Linked DNA regions of Homo sapiens. The protein of the gene in region 1 purifies or fractionates together with the protein of each later gene. This does not show direct contact. Each region holds a gene or a part of one and is shown on either strand. Other genes may lie near its edges. The genes, in order: CFAP65 and GART.

Evidence for each region.
Region 2: the proteins of CFAP65 (region 1) and GART fractionate together in Homo sapiens (co-fractionation; one large-scale study listed by BioGRID). This does not show direct contact.

What each region holds. Positions count from the first base shown.
Region 1 is NC_000002.12:219,020,707-219,024,521, forward strand, and holds part of CFAP65 (cilia- and flagella-associated protein 65), read right to left. Parts: intron 3,555-3,815; coding exon 3,309-3,554; intron 2,726-3,308; coding exon 2,501-2,725; intron 1,624-2,500; coding exon 1,465-1,623; intron 1,225-1,464; coding exon 1,074-1,224; intron 575-1,073; coding exon 446-574; intron 1-445. UniProt on the Homo sapiens protein: Plays a role in flagellar formation and sperm motility.
Region 2 is NC_000021.9:33,507,327-33,511,141, forward strand, and holds part of GART (trifunctional purine biosynthetic protein adenosine-3), read right to left. Parts: intron 2,595-3,815; coding exon 2,457-2,594; intron 1-2,456. UniProt on the Homo sapiens protein: Trifunctional enzyme that catalyzes three distinct reactions as part of the 'de novo' inosine monophosphate biosynthetic pathway.

The DNA.
Region 1 (3,815 bases):
ACTGAGCACAGGGAGGTGAAGCAACTCGTTAAGGTTACAAGTGCTGGAGCCAGGATCCAGTTCCAGAGCCTCTGGCCCCAGTCCACACTCTCAATTTCCTCTCTGTGCTGCCCTGGACTCCTTCCAACCTGCCTGGGGCAGGCTAGTAAGTACTCCATTTTACGGAGAAGGAAGATGAGGCCCAGCGAGGCTTGGGGGCTAAGATTTCACAATAAGTCAGCACAGCTCCTAACTCTTTGCACTGGGCACATGCACATATGGACACTCATCTGGACAGACATGTCTGGTGTGTGGCATTTATGCCAGACACCAAAGGCACACCTCAGCACACCCCACTCACCCTGCCAGCTCTGCCTGACGCTCGGCATCCACTGCCTCACACAGCCCTCCCCCTTCATCCTGCATTTCCCCGGCCCCGACTCTCTATGCCAGGCAGTCTAGGTACCTCTGTGGGAAAGGAGAGAGTAGGTGATGGTCCAGGAGTACTGGGACCGCTGCTTGGGACAGGCAGTCAGGCAGATGGTGTCCTGGGACCGGGGTGGCATGCTCCCCTCTGTTCGGTCCAGCTGCAGAGCTGCTCAGGGATGATGCCGGAGGGTCAGTGGGTAGAGGAGGCCCAGCCATTCCTCCTGCTCCTTTGTAGATACCCTTCCCTGGGCACCAGGGGAGGACAGCAGGCCCTGAGGCAGGAAACAGGGAGTGGAGCCCCTCCTCCCAGCCTGGGTCAGAGGGACCACACCTAACTTTGTGTCATTGGCACCTGCTAAGCACTTTTCCCCACCTAGCAGCCCTGTGAGGTAGGTGCCACCTGGTGCCCCTTTTAACAGATGAGGAAGCTGAGGCTCAGAGGTGGGGTCTCGCTATGTTGCCCAGGCTAGAGGGCAGTGGCTCTTCACAGTTGTGATCATAGTGCACTGCAGCGTGGAACTCCTGGGCTCAAGCAATACTCCCACCTCAGCTTCTTGAAGAGCTGGGACTACAGGCGCGTGCCAGTGTGCCCAGCAGGTTAACCGGTCTTAACCAGTACCTCCTCCCACCTCCCCTGGCCCCAGTCCCAGCTCAGGCCCAAGTACCGAGGGGGTGGTTGTCAACGGCCTCAGGGCTGCCCTGCTCCAGGTAGAGGCGGTAATAGAGGGTGCAGTTGCCGTCATTCAGGAGGACAAGGAACCTGGACTGCTTGCTGTTCACCAGCACATTCCCAAAGGCCAGCTCCTTTTCCTTTGCCTGGAGGCCACAGTCAGCCAGCCGGGAGTGGGAGCTCCTCCAGGCCCACAGCCCCACTCTCCCAGCCCCATTTTCAGAGCATCCCCCAAGGAAGGGCAAGTTTGGGGTATCCGGGGCAGAGGGCTCCTATCCTCTGCCCTCTTGGCCTTCCCTCCCACCTTGGGAGGTTCCCTGGGGCCTTCCCTCCCACCTGTCCGGGCCTCTCCCCCAGCCCCCTCCTGCCAGAGCCCTCCCACTCACAGAGAGGCTGCTGGTGAGCCCAACGCCCACCAGCCGGAGCATGTAGTGGGTGGTGGCAGCGGGGTTGGCATTTGGGGACAGGCCGGCTTCCCAGACCCACATCCCCACTTGGAACAGGTACTTGGTCTCCTCCAAAGGGCTGAAGGTCCACGTCAGCGTCTGGGGTCACAGAAATGATCCCTGCAGTGGCCTTCGGAAGCCCCTCCACAGGTACCTGGCCATCCGAGGCCCCATGGCAGGGCGTCATGCTACGTTAGCCCTTTCTCAGAATCTACCCTATGCCAGGCATTGTACACGGCACATGTATGGAGTCTCCCCAATCCCCTCAATCCTATATCCCCACGGGGTCAGTAGTATTATTTCCATGCCTCATTTTCTGATGAGAAACTGAAAGTTCAGAGAAGTGGGGTCCCTTGCCCAGGGTCAGACAGTAGTGAGGGTGGGAGCGGGATGTCAACATTCCAGGCCAACTCCACAGGCTATGAGGCCTCTTGTCCCCCCGAGGGGCTGTCCCCTTGGCTCTTACAGATGCCTGTGCTGGTGCTTCTTGTCCCAAGTTTGGCCTCCCCAACCCGTCGGTAAGGTTCTAGACTAGGGACAGGGGTCTGCTATTTTGAATCCCAGCCAGCACCCCCACTGTGACTACAGTCTCCTTCCTCACCCTCACTGGTGGCTGGCCATTTGGGCCCAAATCCAGCTGCTGCAACCCACCCTCCCAATGACCTCCCAGCTTTGGGGACCATGGATGGGGAGGTGACATGCCTCTCAGGCCTGGCATCAGAAACACTGGTTCCAGTCCCAGCCCTGCACGGCCTAACTTATGATCTTAGTAAATGGCTTCCCCTTCTCAAGCCTCAATTATTTGTAAAATGGTGGGGGGATGGTGAGGGTAATAATAACACCTCATCGCCAGGTGGGGGAAGTTACTGTGGATGGAATTGGGGGCTGCACATGGCAAGTCTGGGCTATGATAGGCACAAATAAGAGATGACAGAAGTGAAGGTTGCCGTCACTCGGCAGGAGGGGAGCCACTCACAAGTCTCTCGTTGGGCTGGATTAGCCCCCTGGAGGGCTGGACAGCCAGCAGCTTTCGATGCTGCTCAGAGACCCTCCACTCGAACTGCAGGGGCAGACGCGAGGGGTTGCGGAAGGTGAAGGGGCTGGTGGAGGAGCAGCCCACCCAGGTGGGCTTGAAGTAGAGGCTTTTGTGGGTGTCCAGCTTCAGCTGCAGTGGCTCCTCCCGGCTGTACATGCTCACCTCCTGGAGCCAGAGGAAGAAGGGCAGTGCCCTGACCTCACTCTGCAGTCCCAGCCCCCCACAACATGTCCAGGAAGCCATGGCTAGGCAGCTTTCCCCACTTGAAGCAGGCAGTCAAAGGCCCTCTGCCAGCCCGTGTACCGGCAGTTTCTGTCAAAAGCAGAGTCAATGGTGACTGGCCCAGGAGATAATTCTTGAAAAGAACTCAGGGACTGAGAGAGGATCTATAGACCATTCCACGGGGCCAGACATGGGCCCACCATCTCAGAGTCTATTGCTGGCCTGGACCCAAATATCCCTCTACCACCTGCAGGTGTCTTTTGCCTCCCCCAGATCCTTCCTCTGGGTTCTCTGCACCCTCTTTCTTGGCCTCAGACCCCATAAGGGGGACAGGCAAGGCCCTGAGGGGTGGGAGAGTTGTTCACAGAAGTGGTCAAGCAGGTTCTTTCCCTACTATGCTACTTCCTGGAGGAGAAGTGGCCCCCTGGAAATCTTAGGGGCCAACCCCAGAATATGGCCTTGAAAAGGGTGGTTCAAGATTATGGCCCATTCCCAAGGACCCAGGTCCCCTCCCTCTGCCTCCTACCTTGAGATACTGGGGGGAAGCATTGCACTGCAGATAGAAAGTGTGCTGCTTCCAGGAGCTGCCCTCAGGGTAGGTGCAGATGAGGATGATCTGGTGGGCCCCGGGTGCCACAAGGCCCGAAGTGGGCCGAAGGATGACGTCTGAGCCTCTCTGGGGGGCCAGGCTGAAGGTCAGCAGCTTGCAGTCTTTGTTGACCAGGAGCAGGCTGCGGTAGGTGGGCTCACCGGAGGACACTGCTGGAAATAGCTGGGGGTGGGAGAGGAGGAAAGCGGCCCCCCGCTCAGACCTCCACCCTGGGACACACACTCAGGGCCCTATGGGGGCTTGGGAGGAGCTGTCTCCAAGTAGATCAGAGGTGCTGCCCTGCAGCCCAGTCAACGCCCTGGGAACGGGGAATTGAAGGAGGCCACGAGCTGACACCAAAGAATGCTTTTGTTCTCCAGAGACCTCCAGAAAGGGGCGGGGGGGGGGCAGGGGGGCGGGGGCACAGGCCCCTGGGAAACTCAG
Region 2 (3,815 bases), on another chromosome or scaffold:
TTTGTGGGAGCTAAAAATTAAAACAGTTGAACTCATGATGATAGTGCAATGATGGTTACCAGAGGCTAGGAAGGGTAGTGGGAGAGACGGGGAGAGGGGATGCTAATGGGTACAAAAATATAGTTAGAATGAACAAAATCTAGTGTTTGATAGCATAACAGGGTGACTATAGTCAACAATAATTTATTACACATTTTAAAATAACTGGAAGAGGCTGGATGTGGTGGCTCACACCTATAATCCCAGCACTTTGGGAGGCCAAGGCAGGCGGATCATACTGAGGTCAAGAGTTCAAGACCAGCCTGACCAGCCTGGCCAACATGATGAAACCCCATCTCTACTAAAAATACAAAAAATTAGCCAGGCATAGTGGCAGGTGCCTGTAATCCCAGCTACTCAGGAGGCTGAGACAGAAGAATCACTTGAAACTGGGAGGCGGAGTTTGCAGTGAGCCGAGTCTGCGCCACTGCACTCCAGCCTGGGCGACAGAGTGAGACTCTATCTCAAAAACAAAAACAAAAACAAAACAAAAAAAAACTGAAATAAAATAACTGGATTGTTTGTAACACAAAGAATAAATGCTTGAGGTGATGAATACCCCATTTACAGGGATGTGATTATTACAGGTTGTATGGCTGTATCAAAAGATCTCATGTACCCTATAAATATATATACCTACCATGTACCCATACAAATTAAAAATTAAAAAAACTCCCTTCCTCTTGGGATAATGGATTAATAGATTGTGAAAAGCACAGATATTCCTGGATAGCCTCCAGTTCCATCCATATTGCTGCAAACGACGTGGTTTAGGATATGTAATTGCTCCTAGGATATGTAATTGCTCCCACAAATTCTGTATCTTGTGATCTAGCATTGTAGTAGAAACAGTATAACATTATGTTAAAACTGACTGATGAGAAATAAGCTGCTTAATTAAGCAAGAAAAACTGACCCTCTCAAGAACAAACCACTATGCTATGACTCTTACAATAGTTTCTTTAAAAAAAAAAAATTTTAGATTCGGGGGTACACACGCTTGTTTATTACATGGGAATGTTGTATAATGGTGGGGACTGGGCTTCTAGTGTACCTATTACCTACATAGTGAACATTATACCTGATAGAAAAATTTTCAACCCTCACCTCTTCTCCCACACTTCCCTGTTTTGTATCTATTGTTTCCATCTTTTTTTTTTTTTTTTTTTTTGAGATGGAGTCTTGCTCTGTCTCCAGGCTGGAGTACAGTGGTGCAATCTCAGCTCATTGCAACCTCTGTCTCCAGGGTTCAAGCAATTCTCCTGTCTCAGCCTCCAGAGTAGCTGGACTACAGACGTGTGCCACCATGCCCAGCTAATTTTTGTATTTTTAGTGGAGACAGGGTTTCACCATGTTGGCCAGGATGGTCTCGATCTCTTGACCTTGTGATCCGCCCGCCTCAGCCTCCCAAAGTGCTAGGATTACAGGCGTGAGCCACAGCACCCGGCCCTATTGTTTCCATCTTTATGTCCACATGTACCCACTGTTTAGCTCCCACTCATAAGTGAGAACATGCAATATCTGGTTTTCTGTTTCTGAGGCAGTTCACTCAGGATAATGGCCTCCAGTTCCATCCATATTGCTGCAAATGATGTGGTTTTATTCTTTTTTATGGCTGCATCTTACAATAGCTTCTTTGCTTTATTATCAACTTGGGCCTAAAGTACATTAAAACCTTAAGATCGACCTGTAAAGCAATTAAACTTCTGGGAATGAATCCTGAAGAAGTATCAGAGCTGGTTGTGGTGCTGCATGCCTGCAGTCCCAGCTACTCGGGGGGCTAATAAGGCGGAAGGATTGCTTGAGGCCAGAGCTGGAAGCTGCAGTGTACTATGACTGCATCTGTGAATAGCTACTGTACTCTAGCCTGGGCAACATAGCAAGACTGTCTCAAAAAGAATCACTATGATCTTGGCCATCAAATAAAAAAAAATCACATATGCATTTAAGAACATACTGAATATTTGCAAGAATGTTCATAGCAGTGTTACTTACAATAGAGGGAAAAAAATCAGGCTACATCCATCTGAGAGAATACAATACTCTTATTACTTTACCCCTCTATCCATAAAGGTTAAACATAAACTTCTTCTAATTAATAAGATAACAATAAAAATTCCTCAACTGTTTTCAGACTTTTCAACAACAAAGCTATGATACAAAATGAGCTGTAGCTTCTATCTTTTCTGGTTTCTCTTTAACCAGCTTTCTGACATCCTTTACTTTTTTCTTTGGGAGCTGTCTCAAATTCCTAAGAAAAGTGGAAAGACTAAGAATGCTGAAAAGACAAAGACAACCCTCATGATTCCCCCCAGTCCCTAGACTCTGCCGAGAGTAACCTTACAATCTCACAAGAGTGCGGGGAGGAAAGGAAGGGCAGTCAACAGCTCTACAGTGAAGGGGAAGCCACATCTCACCTGTTCCAGATATTAAGACAGCCACTCTGGCCTTTTTTTTTTCAAAAGAGAAATGATTTGTCAGGGAGCCATTCTTCAACACTGACCCATTTATTTGCATGCTTTCAATCAGATTCTTGACTTTCACACGTGGGGAACCTTCATTTCAAACATATCCATAAATAAGTAAAGAACAATTGTGAATTAACAAGAATAATGGAAAGAAAAATATTTTATGAAAACTTTAGGGTATGTTTTATCCTGAAAATAAGATAATGCAAGGACTAAAATGAACAACACATTTGTATCACTTAACACTACTCTTTCATAAAAACTTCCAAAAGGTGAACATATGTAATTACTTCAACTAAAAGCTGCAGATCACATCACTATCTTGAAGTGCACGGTGGATATATATGACTGCCTGCCAGTATTCTGCCCCTACTCCCCAAATCTTCCTAGCGAGACCACCCACAGTAGTGCCATGATCTCCTGGTCTCGGGGATAAGCATGTGACCTAGCAAAGCCATTTAAAGGCTTGATATGCGATGTTAAGAAAAAGAGGGTCTCTCTTTTTTTTCTTTTTGAGATGGAGTCTCGCTCTGTTGCCCAGGCTGGAGTGCAGTGGCGCGATCTCGGCTCACTGCAAGTTCCGCCTCCTAGGTTCACGCCATTCTCCTGCCTCAGCCTCCCGAGTAGCTGGGACTACAGGCGCCCGCCACCACGCCCGGCTAATGTTTTGTATTTATTAGTAGAGACGGGGTTTCACTGAGTTAGCCAGGATGGTCTTGATCTCCTGACCTCGTGATCCACCCGCTTCGGCCTCCCAAAGTGCTGGGATTACAGGCGTGAGCCACCACGCCCGGCTGGGTCTCTCTTTCTTATTGTAATGTGAGCTGAAGGATGTTATCTTTCCGGCATTTGGAGAACCCGCTTGAAAATGAATCCTACACAATAGAGGAAAGAAAGGCAGATACAGGTAAAGTCAACAAGGTCTGACATTTTTTTTTTCTATTTTTTATTTTTGTGAATCTTCTCTGTATCGTTCCAATTTTAGTATGTGTCCTGCCAAAGCAAGCATGTGACGTCTTTGTTAGTGAATCTGAGTGGATTTTCTGCCCCTCTGCCAAGTTCTAGCACTTCTCGCAGAGTCCTGACTGATACAGTACTTGTCAGGGTGCTTGCTCGCTATTCCTTGAATCGAGCTGAGTGACAGCAGAGCCATGAGGTCTTGTGTGTAGGGAGATTACTTTGGGAAGCGATCCTGTGGGGTGTGGCTGTGCATGCATGAATGCTTAGTTCTGAGGCAGAAATGAAGAGATACGTGGTATCGCTGGGGTGGGTGCTGTCATGTTACATCTGTGTAAAGATAGTTGCCAT